Linked DNA regions of Homo sapiens: regions 2, 3 and 4 are each linked to region 1. Evidence: fine-mapped expression QTL. A gene starts in region 1. Each other region holds a variant in brackets. All regions are shown on one strand. Distances are from middle to middle. Region 1 holds the start of F5 (coagulation factor V). Region 2 overlaps F5 (coagulation factor V). Region 3 overlaps F5 (coagulation factor V). Region 4 overlaps F5 (coagulation factor V).

Region 1 (4,167 bases):
AATTAACATGATTATATAATTTGAATAGTGTTGTAATAGTTCATAAAATGGAAAAGCCAATTTGAGCCCAGAATCTGGGAGATAGGCAGAACTCTGGACTGTAAAGAATGGCCCAGCAAAGAGGAAGAAAATGGGCATTCTAAGTTGGTGCAATAATATCAGCACAGGAGAAAAGACAGAATATTGGGGGGAGTGGGGAGGGAGGAAGAGGCTGTTGATGAGCCTGATATCATTAACAGAGACCTCATGTGAGGTGCCAGATTACAATTTATTGAATGTACTGAATGCATAAAGCATAAGACAGAAACCTGGAGCCATGCAGATACAGGGAACCCAGGACAAGTCATTATGATGCCTCAGACAATATAATTCGCAGATTCTCTATCAATAGCAAAGTAAGATTTAAGGTGCTGTGAAACAGTCAGATCCTTCAAGAAAAACAAGAATACAAGGGGTCCTGGAGACAGGAAAATATGATCATAATAATAAATTTGTGATTCCTTCTTTCTCTCTTTTTCTCTTTCTTTCTTTTTCTTTCTTTCTTTTTTTTTTTTGATGGAGTTTTGCTCTCGTTGCCCAGGCTGGAGTAAAATGGCATGATATCAGCTCACTGCAAACTCCACCTTCCAGGTTCAAGCAATTCTCTTGCCTCAATCTCTCGAGTAGGTGGGATTACAGGTGTCCACCACAACGCCCGGCTAATTTTTTATATTTTTAGTAGAGAAGGGTTTCACCATGTTGGCCAGGCTGGTCTTGAACTCCTGACCTCAGGTGATTCACCCGCCTTGGCCTCCCAAAGTACTGGGATTACAGGCGTGAGCCACTGCGCCTAGCCTCTGTGTGTTAAGTGCTGGAACTATAGTTTACAGTAGCATTTTATCCTCCCAACATACCCTATCAGGAAAAATTATTATTGTCATCCTTATTTCACAGATGTCAAAACTGAACAGAGAGGTACAGTAACTTGCCCAAGACAACACAGCTAGTAAGTGAAACTGAAATCTGGACAACTGATTTTTTTCAGCCAAGCTCTTCAAGCCCGCTGCTATGCTGCAGCTTAGCTGGCGACAGGCCCTTATCAAGGCAGAACTGTGCCTTGATAGAGGCCAGGAAGGCGATTCAGAGCAGTAGGCCTTGTCCATGTGTTTGTTCCCTGCTTCTTCACCACTTGAAAATAGTGTTTCAGTGCCCAGTAACAGGGCACAATACTCTTTTCCTCAGATTAAAAGGGGAGCCATCTGCTTAAGGTGGTTGGGTGCCACTGCACTGCACAGAAGGTTCTCCAAGTGTGAGCTTGGACCCAGGCAGGCCTCAGGTCAGTGGTAACGGACGACTGCTTCCGTGGTGTTGGCAGGTGGAAATGGAGGGATACAGCTTTGTCCGGCTCATGAATCCCTGGGCATTGTCCCGCCTGCTAGAGCCTCTGATCTCTGCCCCTTCTTCACCTGCAGTAAAACAGTCACTAGTTTGGTTGCTCTCCCTAATACCTCTGGTCACTGGGAGCTGTGATCTCACCAAACCCCTGCCAGGAAAAGCCCCAGAAAAAGCGGAGGGAGTGAGAGCCAGAGGCTGCTGCTGCCGTTTGCAAGAACTGCAGGGGAGGAGGACGCTGCCACCCACAGCCTCTAGAGCTCATTGCAGCTGGGACAGCCCGGAGTGTGGTTAGCAGCTCGGCAAGCGCTGCCCAGGTCCTGGGGTGGTGGCAGCCAGCGGGAGCAGGAAAGGAAGCATGTTCCCAGGCTGCCCACGCCTCTGGGTCCTGGTGGTCTTGGGCACCAGCTGGGTAGGCTGGGGGAGCCAAGGGACAGAAGCGGCACAGCTAAGGCAGTTCTACGTGGCTGCTCAGGGCATCAGTTGGAGCTACCGACCTGAGCCCACAAACTCAAGGTAACTCAGGTGTGGAGTCCGGGTGGGCTTCTCTAGAGAGGAAAATCTATTTCTTTTAGAGAACATTCCCTTTGCAATGTCATGGCTTTTTTTTTTTTTAACTTCAGGTAAGTAAATATAACTAATAGGAGAGTATACTGAATTAAATAAACTGGGCAAATGCTAATTTTGCATCCAACAATGTAGTTTATCATTCTGAGGGTTTAGAAAGCACCCTATTTGATTGGTTAGATGCTACCTTCTTTTCAAGTTTATTTTCAATACAGTTTTGTTAGTATGTTTGTGTTGGCTTATATATTGGTTAATTCAAAGGCACCAGGCACTTGCTCCCTCATTAGCCCTTCCTGCAAACTCCTGTTCCAGATTTTTAGTTGTATAGTATTTTTATGAGACTCCTAGTTACATATTATTTATTCCATTGTCTACATAGCTTCATCTTCTAAAACTAAAAATGAACACCTTGTGCTTTTTGTCATATAATTTTATTGCTGCCTTATAAATGACTTTCAAAATATCATCAGTTCTTGTATGTTTTTGTACTTTCACCTTTTTTCTGCTTCATATTTGACTTATTTATCCTATTGAATGTGACTCTTCATTTTTTTTTCTCTCTGTTCATCATGTCCTGGGATATGGTTTACCTTGGCTACTTAAAGGCATATGTAACTGAGAGGAGGTTTAATTCAGATAAAATACTATCCTTGAGTTGCAAACTATTTTTTCTAATTGAAATGTTAAAAATAAGACTTCTCAGAAATTAACTAAATCATACAGTCTATTCAATATTTCCAGTTAGTTATTTTTTAAATGGTAAACCTGCTAGTGTGACTCACTTTTTTTCCTTACATCACACTTCATTATGAAAGATGTGTTCCTCTTTTACAATTACAAAACCAAAGTAATCTGCCAAAAAATAATGTAATATTTTGAGATCTTTTAGTGTATAATATTAACCTTTTTAAAACTCTCATTGTAACTGGGTTATTTTGGAGGGTATTACATACCATCTTGGTCTTATAATAAGAAGAGATCCCTCCTTCTCAAAAATAATCATTTTAAATATCGTACTTCAAAGTGATAATCTAGGTCACACCCACACCCTTTGGGAACTGCCGTAAGCTAAAACCCCAAGGAAAATAACAGTCCTTCTAACACTAATCTTGCCTGCTCATGAGTAGAATGCAGACTTGGTTGTTGGCTTTCTTGTAGCATGCTGGGTTCATGCTTGGGAGTTTTTTCTCTTGTCTGTAGTTAGCGTTGAAAATAACAAGCAAAATACCGGAGGCAGAACCAGATAGGGCAAAGGTCTGATTCACATGGTGAGTACACAGGGAACCATGACTGGTCATTCTGTCCCCTCATCCTGTGGGTAAGTTTCCAAAGTTCTGGAGATTCGTTCCTCTGGTAGGAATTGTTGAGTCAAAACCATAGAAACACAACCCAGACAAACTGTCATATTGTTTAACCCTAAATCATATCATTTCTCTCTAGCATTTTCTTATGAAAAATCTAATCCATATATCTGGCTGCTTAAACTAAGAACTTGTTCTAACTTGTCCTGCCCCTAGAGCTATGATACTCACTAGGTGAATATCAACATAGCCAACTCCATCTTTTGGCAAAGTGTATTTTAGCACAAAGCAGACATCTATCTACTTATTTCATATAATATTAGCAGGACAATGCCTTTTAAAGGTAAAATGTATCTATTATTCTTGCTCCAAGTCTAAGGTGAACACTTTCAAAAATTTCCTTAGAAAACTTGTTTAGTCACTCACATGTATACAAAGAGATATTGAAGAAAAGATATACATACATTTTCCTTCTAGGGTTCTAGCTTTATATGATTTTGTGATTATGAACAAATCATCTTTAAACAATCCTTATAAATGAAAAACTCGTCGTACACATTGTTTGAATTCATATGATCTGTAACTTTTTAATCAGATAGATTATTTTCCAATAGAAATTGTTCAGATCAAAATAGACATACCTCAGTATGAATACACAGCATACATAGTAAAAACATGTTAGGAAACATCTCTCTGTTGAAATTACTCCACGTAAGAGACTGATATTTTTTAGTAAAGATTTTACACCATCATCTACATTTCTGTATTAAAGATCTGGGGCAGGGGAGGACAATAACTTTTCAATTGTACTAAAAATAAATAAATAAAAATGGACTTCCACATTAGGGACATTAGTATATAGAATCCTGGAATTCTTAAGTTAGAAGAATGCTAAGAGTTCATTTAATTCATATTCAACTTCCACGCT
Region 2 (4,167 bases), 56 kb after region 1:
TTGTTGAGGGTTTTTATCATGAAGGGATGTTAGGTTTTATCAAAAGCTTTTTCCACATTTATTGAGATGATGATACTGTTTTTGTTTTTAATGCGGTTTATGTGGTGAATCACATTTATTGATTTGCATATGTGGAGCCACTTTGCATCCTAGGAATGAAGCCTATGTGATTGTGATGAATTAATTTTTAATTTGCTGCTGGATTTGGTTTGCCAATATTTTGTTGAAGATTTTTGTGTCTATGTACATCAGAGATATTGGCCGGTAGTTTTCATTATTCATTGTGTCTTTGCCAGGTTTTGTTATTAGGGTGATGCTGGCTTTGTAGAATAAAATAAGGAACAGACAATTAGGGAGTCTTTAATCACTAGAAGTTATAGAAGGGCTGGGAGGAGCTTCATGGGTCTGACTGCTGGGGTGTGAAGACTTCTCATATGGCATTTAAGTCCTTTACCATCTGGCCCCAACCTGCTCCTTTTCTAGCCTCATTTCTCACCAGGTTCCACCTGTCCCTGTGCATTTCACAGCCCAGTTCCACCGAGATCCTTGCTATTCCCCAAACTCTTCCTTTACTCCCCTGCTCACAGGCATCCTTCTGCCCTTCTGAGAGTCTGAAATGTCTTTCTAGCTCCTGTTCATTCTATGATGGCCAATTCCATTTCCTCTAAGAAACTTACCTTAATTCTTCCAACCACTCCTAAATATTCAACCAAATTGTTCCTCCAGGGCATTGTCATCTGAACCCACTTAGACTTTGTATATAGCACCTGTTGTCTCCAGATTTGTAGTGTGGATGCCCATGTGCATGTCTGTTTCAGCAGGAGCTTAAAAGCTTCTTATGAACAAGAATCAAGCTTCTTTCATCTTCACATCTCCACTACCTATCACTCTCATTTCATTAGTAGATAATGTCAGTACTTTAGCCTTGAGCCTAAGAACAAATATCTTTTGGTATTTCTGGAGAAAACTACTTGGGCCATATCTCACAGGATGGTTATGAAAATTAAATGAAATAATATACATAAGTTATTTTGTACCTTATATCTTAGCTCCGATTTTATAACCAGCCATTTTGACTTATAATGCTGACATTTTTGTGGTTTAGATTTTTGTTAAGCTTAAGTACATTTGTGGATCATTCCTTTTCCTAGGTTCGTTTTAAAAATTTAGCATCCAGACCGTATTCTCTACATGCCCATGGACTTTCCTATGAAAAATCATCAGAGGGAAAGACTTATGAAGATGACTCTCCTGAATGGTTTAAGGAAGATAATGCTGTTCAGCCAAATAGCAGTTATACCTACGTATGGCATGCCACTGAGCGATCAGGGCCAGAAAGTCCTGGCTCTGCCTGTCGGGCTTGGGCCTACTACTCAGCTGTGAACCCAGTAGGTACTTTCATTGAAAGTTTTTCTCATTCCCCTAACCTCGTAATCTGAAGTCCACCAAATGGAAGAGTCGGGGTTATTTCTTGTCAAATGTCTGTCTTGCTTTTCATGAGGAATGCATAAGGGTGTGGTTAACAGTCTGCATTTATCATAACCAGGGACTCTCCATGCAGCTCTTCAGATGACAGAGAGAGAAACATTTATTCAGTGGAGAGGAGGAAAGATTACTTGAATGATTGGCCATGAATTAGAATGCCTACATTTACAGAAGATGGCATTTATTTGAAATTTTCTTGAACAAGTATTAGCTATGTTCTGCTCTTTCTTTATGAAAAGAACTGCAAAGTCAAGACTCCTTTATCTGACATTCTGCAATGTATATATACTTCAAAACAATATGTCATACACAGTATATGCATACAATTTTATCTGTCAATTAAAAAGAGAAACAACTCCTCCATTTCAGGCATAGTGGAAAGAGCACAGACTCAGATTTAAATTTTTACCCTGTCAATGCATAATCCTAGGAAATTCCTTGACCTCTCTTAGCCTGGTATCAGAAGTTAAAAATGAGATAACAGTACATAGTGCATGGTAAGCACTTGGTAAATATTTGTTCAATGAATGAATTTATATTTACCATATAAGATAGTTGTCAGGATTAAATGGGAGATTGCAGGCAAATCATTTAATATAGTAATAGATTCTCAATAAATAGTATCCCTTATATTATCAATTTATTATTATCATCATTGTTACTGGGATAAAGATCAATCAGAGGAAGGAGGATTATGAATACAACAGAATTAGGTGATAAATATCCAGGCTTATTATGCCATTCATTTATAATCTTCATCTTCAAATTCAGAGCCTATCAGAAAGTTTCCTTTTCTATATGATGAGTGATTATCAGAAGAGCAAGGAAATTCCTGAGAAAGAGGCAATACAATTTACTCTGTTTTTCCAGGAAAAAGATATTCACTCAGGCTTGATAGGTCCCCTCCTAATCTGCCAAAAAGGAATACTACATAAGGACAGCAACATGCCT[A/G]TGGACATGAGAGAATTTGTCTTACTATTTATGACCTTTGATGAAAAGAAGAGCTGGTACTATGAAAAGAAGTCCCGAAGTTCTTGGAGACTCACATCCTCAGAAATGAAAAAATCCCATGAGTTTCACGGTATTTTCCTCAGACTTTGATCTAATCTCCTAATTAAATCACACTGGGTCACAGTGATTTCTGCCCTTAGATATTCACAAGATTAGACATGAGATGCTTCTGAGACACCCAGAGCTACAACTAAAACCGGTTCCTTAACATTCCAGAGGGCTGATGTAATCTGGCAGGTGACACTGTGGGTGAGGCAAAAAGAGAAAGTCTGAAAGATAGCACAGAGAAGCTGCTGCAAAACAAACCAACAGAAAACCACAACAACAAAAAGCCAGTGTGCTTCAGCTGGTAACATACATTGAAAAGGAATTAACATTGTTCTGCAATTTAAAGTTAATAAGCTTGTTTCTGGATCTCTAAAGGCACAAGTGTTTATATAAAAGAAATGATCACCTGTGTGTCTTTTCTAAAATAAGAATGACGCTAACAGTTTTAGCTCTCAGCAGCTACCAGGTGGCACCCAAAGCATATGAGAACAAAATGAGATAAGAAACTAGGTACCCAGGTAATAGGAGAATAGTGGCAAGAGAGCATTTGGGTGGTCACACTGGGAAAAGTGTGCCTATTTGGAAATTCACAAGGAAAATTTGCCCTGTAAGCTAGTAACTGAAACAGAAACTGAGAAGAGAAAGGTACGAGCTTGTGTTATGAATATGTAGATAGGTGTTCTCACGCCTGATATAATTTGAAGGATGCCCAAATGATCTCAACCCGTCCCTCTCCAAAAATTCACCTGCCTGGTTTCTGAAATTTCACAGCAGTTCCTCTAACTTAAGAAGGAGGAAACAAAGCACTTCCTTCACTTTGGTTTCAGTTAAACGTTTGGTAACACTAAACTTTATCTTTACAGTTTTGTGTTACATTTTTAAGGTGATCAAGTTTCTCAGGAACTTTTTAAAAAATCCGCGTATTTTACTGTGGGGAGAGTAGATAAAGCCTGAGAACCCTAGTTATCTAATCTGAGAAGTGGGCAGAGGAGTTGTCATACCAATAAGAGAATAAACATGACTTGCTATGGTTGCTGGATACACCAACGATAAACTCCTAATTTTATAAACTCCTAGACTTCCTAATTTGCCTGAAACTTTCTCTGAATTTAGAAGGCCTTAAGGTGACATGCTGCATATCTCCTTGCTGACTCTAATCCCTGGAGTTTACTTTGTCTGCCCATATTTGTATTTATCTTTTGTAGTTAAGGAAAATTAAGACTGTTAATGGAAAGTATACACGGGTAAAGCACGGAACTGTAAAAGCTGAGGAAAAGAGTGATAAACTGCTTGGAAAGGGAGTTCCCCCTGCCTTCTGCTGTAGGCTGGTGTGAATGATATGAGAAGGACTAGTGGTTCTGCTTTAGCCTCTCACTAATGTGACATACAAGAGGGCCCTTTCCATGGCTAGGTAGGCCTGGGAATGCAGAATCATGAGGAACATGGGTGTTGAGTGGGTTGCCCCATATTTCCTTACCACTCGCCCTCTCTGTGTCAACAGATTTTTAATTGATTTCAACTCTTTGTCCTTTCAGCCATTAATGGGATGATCTACAGCTTGCCTGGCCTGAAAATGTATGAGCAAGAGTGGGTGAGGTTACACCTGCTGAACATAGGCGGCTC
Region 3 (4,167 bases), 26 kb after region 1:
CACACTGATGTTCTCACCTTCTTCTCGTAAAGAATTTATCAAGTTATTGTACCAAACAAAAATAACTGCATCCCAAAGAGAAATTCTGTCACCAGCTGATGATAGGGAATCTTTCACCTAATTAAATGAGGAATTCCTCAGGCAGAGGAAACTGTTCATTCCACTTGGCTCTCTATGGCACTCACCTCTCCCCTTCCTGACCTCACTTGCTCCATTTTATTATTGAAAACCTCACCCAACCCTCTACACTTCTTTTAATATTGAGTATCTCAGTTCCTTCTCTTCAATAAAGAAGACCAATTTCTTCATCCTCTCCCTCTCCTATCAGTAGGGAAAGTCCAATATACATGGAGGTGTTAATGATGTGTCTTTGGGTGCACAAAGTACAAAGTAAGACATCTAAGTTTCAGGGGATGGACACATTTCATATTCATACAGACAACCAGCCTGCATAGGGGAGTTAGACGCTGTGGCTCGGGGGAAAAAATTGAGATAATCAGATGGCTAAGATGAAATAAAGAGATAAAACAAAGCTGAGGATCACAGCAGTTGGAAAGAAGATCTGAAATAGCAAAACAAAATAATACATAAACAGCTCTGACTATCCTCCCATCTCATGTTAATAGGCTAAGTATGTCTTATTAAACACCACAAAGAAGATATCACCCATTCTTATATTCTGAGATGGTTTACTAATCAAAGGCGATTCAATTCTCTGATTATATTTAAATAATAATTGTTCAGGTACCCTGGAAAATTAACTTGCTAAACTTTAATTTACAAATAACATTTGTTATTCTTAAGATCACCATGTTATCAAAGCCTTTGTAAGTACATGAGCATAGAAATGGGCATATGTGAATCTTTCCAAATAATAAAAGTTCACTATTGAAGGACATATGCATCTCCAGAGAACTCATCTTAGCTATCCCCAGATTTGAGAGTGGTGAAAACGCAATCCTCAGAAACTGCCCACATGTCTTGATGGCTGTTACTCCTCCAGGTGCTTCTTACCTTGACCACACATTCCCTGCGGAGAAGATGGACGACGCTGTGGCTCCAGGCCGAGAATACACCTATGAATGGAGTATCAGTGAGGACAGTGGACCCACCCATGATGACCCTCCATGCCTCACACACATCTATTACTCCCATGAAAATCTGATCGAGGATTTCAACTCGGGGCTGATTGGGCCCCTGCTTATCTGTAAAAAAGGTAAGAACACCCCCACCAAAAGATTCAACAACTAAATGTTGGAATGGTCAGGAGTTCTGTCATGGGACAAAGCTTGGGAGCATCTTGGTAACTTCTTGTACATCAAGCAGAGGAAGACGGCACGGAGACCAGATCATTGTTTGACAAGAGAAAAAAACACCTGCTATTTCAGGGTGTGGATCCACCTCTGTTTCTTCTCATTCCTCCTTCATCTCAGTCCTTAAGGTTCTCCCAGGCAAATTCCTGTTTGAGAGTATGTTCTGATGTCATGCTTGTATGATCTGTAACATTTACCTCAAGGCCAAAGTCTTTTAGAAAGTATACAGTAGCCTATACTCTGCTGAAAGAGCTCTTGGAAAGAACTTTGGCTAACATGTTTGACATATCTGAGGTTTGGGCTGGTAATTTGCTCTATAAACACGTGAAATGCCAGCTTCCTTTCTTACAAACAAGTTGAAAACTTTGGGTGGTAGGTTTCAAACACACTCAAGTGACTTTACAAGAACTTTTATTGGCTGGGCTTCTTAGGAGCAAGCTTGGATTTTCATTTTATCCCATGAGAATCCAGCCCATCTTTCATTAAAACAAACAACCACAGTGAGCCACAGCATGGGAAATAACGTGATGGACTCACCATCTGCCTATACATACACGCTCAGGCCATACCTACATACATGCCCAATGTATTTACTCATTATACAAAGACTTTTTTTCCATTTCCTGGTATATATAAGATACTGTGATGGTACTGAAAAAAACC[T/G]TAAAACTTACAAAAGACTCTTCTTGCATTTTACCATCAGCAGCATGTTTTTCTCATAGTGAGAATGGATTAATGCTGATACTTCCACCCAATTATCTAATGCCCCCTTTCATATACAAATAAGATGACAGCATTAAACTTGGGGCATGATGCTTTTACCAACTGAGCTAACGTATCTATATACTCTTCTATTGAGACTGGGGGAAATGGATACTTGTACAGAGTCTTGAGAGTCACCAAATGTTTTCTTCCCAAGCTGGATGAAATAAAGCCTGTTCCCCAAAGCAAGAAGGTATCAAAGAAGACAGTGTGGCACCAGATTTTAAATAACCCTAGAACCATTATTACTTGATAAATATGCTATTTTAAAAAATAAGAATTTCTTCAAGTTGAAATCATTATGGTTGATTGCTTGCCCTAAACTCTTTGCTATCCAGGAAAGCTAATGAGCGTCTTCTATCTGCAGTGCTACTGAAAACATGTCTTTCCTTTCATAGGGACCCTAACTGAGGGTGGGACACAGAAGACGTTTGACAAGCAAATCGTGCTACTATTTGCTGTGTTTGATGAAAGCAAGAGCTGGAGCCAGTCATCATCCCTAATGTACACAGTCAATGGATATGTGAATGGGACAATGCCAGGTAACACGAGGGCTGTGTACCATTAAACAACAGTAAAATCATTAGTAATTTTTCGGTCCTGTTTTCTTCAAAGCACTAGAGAAGTTGACCATACTCACTGTTTTGCAACTCCCTATCAAGAAGGAAATATTTTCTCTTTTTTTTTTTAAACAGGAAATAGAAGAGACAAATTAGAAGCTAGAGAAGAAATGTGCAGCCTTGTTAGGTATAGTGACCTGAGTAGGTTTCACCTTGGCCTGTACTTTGAATAAGACCTTAAGGTATCAGCTCAGCCACTCTCTCCGAGTTCTGCAGTTCCTCTATATGATGACCATGGCTTCTTCAAGGACAAGCCCTAGCAGGAAGGATCAGCAGGAAGATTGCAGTAAAGATGAACAGATTAGGAGTAATCCTCAACACACAAAAAAAACCAGCATTTCAAAAGGTGACAGAAGAGTAATATTCAGTGGCATCTAGAATATTTTCTCTTTCCATTTGCATTTGGGCACTTATGAGAAGGCAAAATCATAGCAATCGTTAAGAGAAAAAATAACTAATTCCCACTTAGACCACATCTCTTCTATTTCTCTCTGGTAGAACTGACCTACAACTAAAGATCCAGGGTATATGATACTAGCCTGAGGGAAAAACATTAAAAAATTAAAATGCCACTTTACTAAATAAACCATATTTCAAAACACTAAACTTCTTAGAGGTTATTCTCTAATGCCATCTGAAAATCACAAATAGCTTCACTTACTAAAACACAAATATTGTTAAGAGTTGAGATCTGGGTAGTGTTTTTAAATTGTATTCTATTTCATTTGACTACATTTTCCACTTGGTTTTCTGAAAATATACTCATATGACTCTCAATGTTGATCCCAAGTTCCAATACTAGGAGCTTGTAAAAACTGGGGCTTAGTTAACTGACCTCGACCTTAGATAATCTGAGTTCAGACTTCAGATTATCAGACTACCTTCTGTGGCCCTGGATAAATTAGTTGTCTCAATGTGCTTACTTACAAAAGTGGACTAACCATTTATCCTAACATCTATTTCCTGGCAGAGTGAACAATCTGTATAAGTATATGGATGCCAAGAAAAGCAAAACCATATGCACAAAAATAAAAATAAATTGATCTGAGCTTAGAGTTTACGAATTTATAGTTCCCAAAAGAATAATTGGGGGTAAATGGGACAAGGTAGGGAAAGACCATCAGTAGAAACTAAGAATAGTAAACATTTGTAAAAACCCTCTGCCTTATAAAGCAGAATAAATTGAATACATATGATAAATGCTAACACAGATATGTTAATTGCTGAACTCAATATAAGCATTTCTTTGGCATGGATAAACGCTTCCACCAAAGCCTCCTAGTGATGCAAGGAATCCTGGCTTTGTTGCAATGGTCTCCTAAAAAAAACAAGCCTTTGTGTGGGTAAGGAACTGATTCTCAGGCCCATTATCTAGTATCTAGTGATTATGTATCTGAGATGTAAAACAGAAACCTAAAAGCCAAGGATGGAGTCTCCCCACAGAGCAAATGAGCATTTTCCCAGTGACTGTA
Region 4 (4,167 bases), 44 kb after region 1:
ATGGCTATGTGCCTGAGAGCATAACTACTCTTGGATTCTGCTTTGATGACACTGTCCAGTGGCACTTCTGTAGTGTGGGGACCCAGAATGAAATTTTGACCATCCACTTCACTGGGCACTCATTCATCTATGGAAAGAGGCATGAGGACACCTTGACCCTCTTCCCCATGCGTGGAGAATCTGTGACGGTCACAATGGATAATGTTGGTGAGTAAGAGTCTGGACACTCACAGAGGAAGCTTGCTTTGAATTTCTGGTCTATAAAGGTCTGCTGCAACTCTCCAGGCTACCAGTGCTCCTCTATGTATCTCCCTGACCCCCTGCAGGCTTTTCTTTCAATGTTTCTCATGATTTCTCTTTGAGAAATTAATGACTTAAATGGATCCAGTTCTTTAGTGTGGGTTATATTTTTCCTTCTCTGGGCAAAGTAGGAAGTAAAAATATACAACAGCAGAAAAATAAGGCATAACTCTGAGGAAGAAGCATAAATATTTTGGCCACAAAAGAGCATTTCTTTTATCAAAATGCCCTATTCGGTTTTTTGCAACAGTCATCTTCAATCATCAGGTACAGTGCCTTAAAGGCTGCTTCAGCAACAGCTTTGGAGTTTGTCAGACTGGAATGCAAGTCCTGATCTGCCAATCGATTGCTGTGTAACCTTACACAAGTTACTTGGCCACACTGAGCCACAAGTCATTTATCTGGAAAACAGTGTAATCACATCTCACAGAGTTACTTTGACCATTAAAATAGTAATATGCGCCAAGTGCCTAGCACTCAGTAGACACCAACAATGGTAACTATTGGAGACTCACCAAGAAATCTTTGATGTTCCAGCAATGCATGCCATTTCAGAGATTCAAAATTGTCCTCGTGAATTATTACTTAGAAACATCTAAATGTCTCTTATTTGTGGGGATAGAGCTCATCACCATCCCTTTAATTCTAAGACAAGATGTGCTGTTAGGATATTTATGATATTAAAAGTCCATTTTATTCTTGATTCATCCCTTTCTTAATATATTTTAAAATAGTGAGCAACTATCTGTGCTGAAAGACCTTTTTTCCCCTCTAATCTCCACTAAGCAACACTTTTGTTTTTTATTCTGTTAAGCGAGATGAACGCACTGGTCATGTGCTTAGAGTCACAGCAATGTCAAATTGCTTTAGAAAAACAAAAGTTTACTAAATATTTCATTCTCATTTTTCTCTCCTTGTGTTATTTTGACCCAGTAATCAATAGGTCACAGACAAGCAGTGGTCCACAGCCCATACTTGAATATTCCTGACGAAAGTTTATTAGAAATTACCTGCCACAATGGATTATTGTGTTTTCATGTCTTTTCCCAGACTTCCAGATCTCTCTTCTGTCTGTCTCTCTTCTGTAGGAACTTGGATGTTAACTTCCATGAATTCTAGTCCAAGAAGCAAAAAGCTGAGGCTGAAATTCAGGGATGTTAAATGTATCCCAGATGATGATGAAGACTCATATGAGATTTTTGAACCTCCAGAATCTACAGTCATGGCTACACGGAAAATGCATGATCGTTTAGAACCTGAAGATGAAGAGAGTGATGCTGACTATGATTACCAGAACAGACTGGCTGCAGCATTAGGAATCAGGTCATTCCGAAACTCATCATTGAATCAGGAAGAAGAAGAGTTCAATCTTACTGCCCTAGCTCTGGAGAATGGCACTGAATTCGTTTCTTCAAACACAGATATAATTGTTGGTTCAAATTATTCTTCCCCAAGTAATATTAGTAAGTTCACTGTCAATAACCTTGCAGAACCTCAGAAAGCCCCTTCTCACCAACAAGCCACCACAGCTGGTTCCCCACTGAGACACCTCATTGGCAAGAACTCAGTTCTCAATTCTTCCACAGCAGAGCATTCCAGCCCATATTCTGAAGACCCTATAGAGGATCCTCTACAGCCAGATGTCACAGGGATACGTCTACTTTCACTTGGTGCTGGAGAATTCAAAAGTCAAGAACATGCTAAGCATAAGGGACCCAAGGTAGAAAGAGATCAAGCAGCAAAGCACAGGTTCTCCTGGATGAAATTACTAGCACATAAAGTTGGGAGACACCTAAGCCAAGACACTGGTTCTCCTTCCGGAATGAGGCCCTGGGAGGACCTTCCTAGCCAAGACACTGGTTCTCCTTCCAGAATGAGGCCCTGG[A/G]AGGACCCTCCTAGTGATCTGTTACTCTTAAAACAAAGTAACTCATCTAAGATTTTGGTTGGGAGATGGCATTTGGCTTCTGAGAAAGGTAGCTATGAAATAATCCAAGATACTGATGAAGACACAGCTGTTAACAATTGGCTGATCAGCCCCCAGAATGCCTCACGTGCTTGGGGAGAAAGCACCCCTCTTGCCAACAAGCCTGGAAAGCAGAGTGGCCACCCAAAGTTTCCTAGAGTTAGACATAAATCTCTACAAGTAAGACAGGATGGAGGAAAGAGTAGACTGAAGAAAAGCCAGTTTCTCATTAAGACACGAAAAAAGAAAAAAGAGAAGCACACACACCATGCTCCTTTATCTCCGAGGACCTTTCACCCTCTAAGAAGTGAAGCCTACAACACATTTTCAGAAAGAAGACTTAAGCATTCGTTGGTGCTTCATAAATCCAATGAAACATCTCTTCCCACAGACCTCAATCAGACATTGCCCTCTATGGATTTTGGCTGGATAGCCTCACTTCCTGACCATAATCAGAATTCCTCAAATGACACTGGTCAGGCAAGCTGTCCTCCAGGTCTTTATCAGACAGTGCCCCCAGAGGAACACTATCAAACATTCCCCATTCAAGACCCTGATCAAATGCACTCTACTTCAGACCCCAGTCACAGATCCTCTTCTCCAGAGCTCAGTGAAATGCTTGAGTATGACCGAAGTCACAAGTCCTTCCCCACAGATATAAGTCAAATGTCCCCTTCCTCAGAACATGAAGTCTGGCAGACAGTCATCTCTCCAGACCTCAGCCAGGTGACCCTCTCTCCAGAACTCAGCCAGACAAACCTCTCTCCAGACCTCAGCCACACGACTCTCTCTCCAGAACTCATTCAGAGAAACCTTTCCCCAGCCCTCGGTCAGATGCCCATTTCTCCAGACCTCAGCCATACAACCCTTTCTCCAGACCTCAGCCATACAACCCTTTCTTTAGACCTCAGCCAGACAAACCTCTCTCCAGAACTCAGTCAGACAAACCTTTCTCCAGCCCTCGGTCAGATGCCCCTTTCTCCAGACCTCAGCCATACAACCCTTTCTCTAGACTTCAGCCAGACAAACCTCTCTCCAGAACTCAGCCATATGACTCTCTCTCCAGAACTCAGTCAGACAAACCTTTCCCCAGCCCTCGGTCAGATGCCCATTTCTCCAGACCTCAGCCATACAACCCTTTCTCTAGACTTCAGCCAGACAAACCTCTCTCCAGAACTCAGTCAAACAAACCTTTCCCCAGCCCTCGGTCAGATGCCCCTTTCTCCAGACCCCAGCCATACAACCCTTTCTCTAGACCTCAGCCAGACAAACCTCTCTCCAGAACTCAGTCAGACAAACCTTTCCCCAGACCTCAGTGAGATGCCCCTCTTTGCAGATCTCAGTCAAATTCCCCTTACCCCAGACCTCGACCAGATGACACTTTCTCCAGACCTTGGTGAGACAGATCTTTCCCCAAACTTTGGTCAGATGTCCCTTTCCCCAGACCTCAGCCAGGTGACTCTCTCTCCAGACATCAGTGACACCACCCTTCTCCCGGATCTCAGCCAGATATCACCTCCTCCAGACCTTGATCAGATATTCTACCCTTCTGAATCTAGTCAGTCATTGCTTCTTCAAGAATTTAATGAGTCTTTTCCTTATCCAGACCTTGGTCAGATGCCATCTCCTTCATCTCCTACTCTCAATGATACTTTTCTATCAAAGGAATTTAATCCACTGGTTATAGTGGGCCTCAGTAAAGATGGTACAGATTACATTGAGATCATTCCAAAGGAAGAGGTCCAGAGCAGTGAAGATGACTATGCTGAAATTGATTATGTGCCCTATGATGACCCCTACAAAACTGATGTTAGGACAAACATCAACTCCTCCAGAGATCCTGACAACATTGCAGCATGGTACCTCCGCAGCAACAATGGAAACAGAAGAAATTATTACATTGC

What was found. PIP is the estimated chance that this variant, and not a neighbour inherited with it, causes the effect. A credible set is the group of variants that fine-mapping cannot tell apart.
Region 2: its variant is the best candidate, but not a certain one, in a credible set for the expression of F5 in blood mononuclear cells (TOPMed, PIP 0.57).
Region 3: its variant is the best candidate, but not a certain one, in a credible set for the expression of F5 in whole blood (INTERVAL, PIP 0.58).
Region 4: its variant is the best candidate, but not a certain one, in a credible set for the expression of F5 in whole blood (INTERVAL, PIP 0.64).

The regions. Positions count from the first base shown.
Region 1 is chr1:169,583,949-169,588,115 of GRCh38, reverse strand. F5 (coagulation factor V) reads left to right here and starts at 1,635. Exons shown (of 25, transcript NM_000130.5): 1 at 1,635-1,887. The coding sequence starts at 1,730. RefSeq lists enhancers at 1,160-1,659, 1,660-2,161.
Region 2 is chr1:169,528,007-169,532,173 of GRCh38, reverse strand. It overlaps F5 (coagulation factor V), which reads left to right. Exons shown (of 25, transcript NM_000130.5): 15 at 1,152-1,388; 16 at 2,356-2,566; 17 at 4,080-4,167. Among named protein-coding and RNA genes, the nearest start is that of SLC19A2, 44 kb to the right of the region's middle. RefSeq lists an enhancer at 399-568. The variant A/G (reference allele first, on the strand shown) is at 2,437.
Region 3 is chr1:169,557,603-169,561,769 of GRCh38, reverse strand. It overlaps F5 (coagulation factor V), which reads left to right. Exons shown (of 25, transcript NM_000130.5): 4 at 1,004-1,216; 5 at 2,474-2,617. Among named protein-coding and RNA genes, the nearest start is that of F5, 27 kb to the left of the region's middle. The variant T/G (reference allele first, on the strand shown) is at 1,977.
Region 4 is chr1:169,540,336-169,544,502 of GRCh38, reverse strand. It overlaps F5 (coagulation factor V), which reads left to right. Exons shown (of 25, transcript NM_000130.5): 12 at 1-207; 13 at 1,389-4,167. Among named protein-coding and RNA genes, the nearest start is that of F5, 44 kb to the left of the region's middle. The variant A/G (reference allele first, on the strand shown) is at 2,186.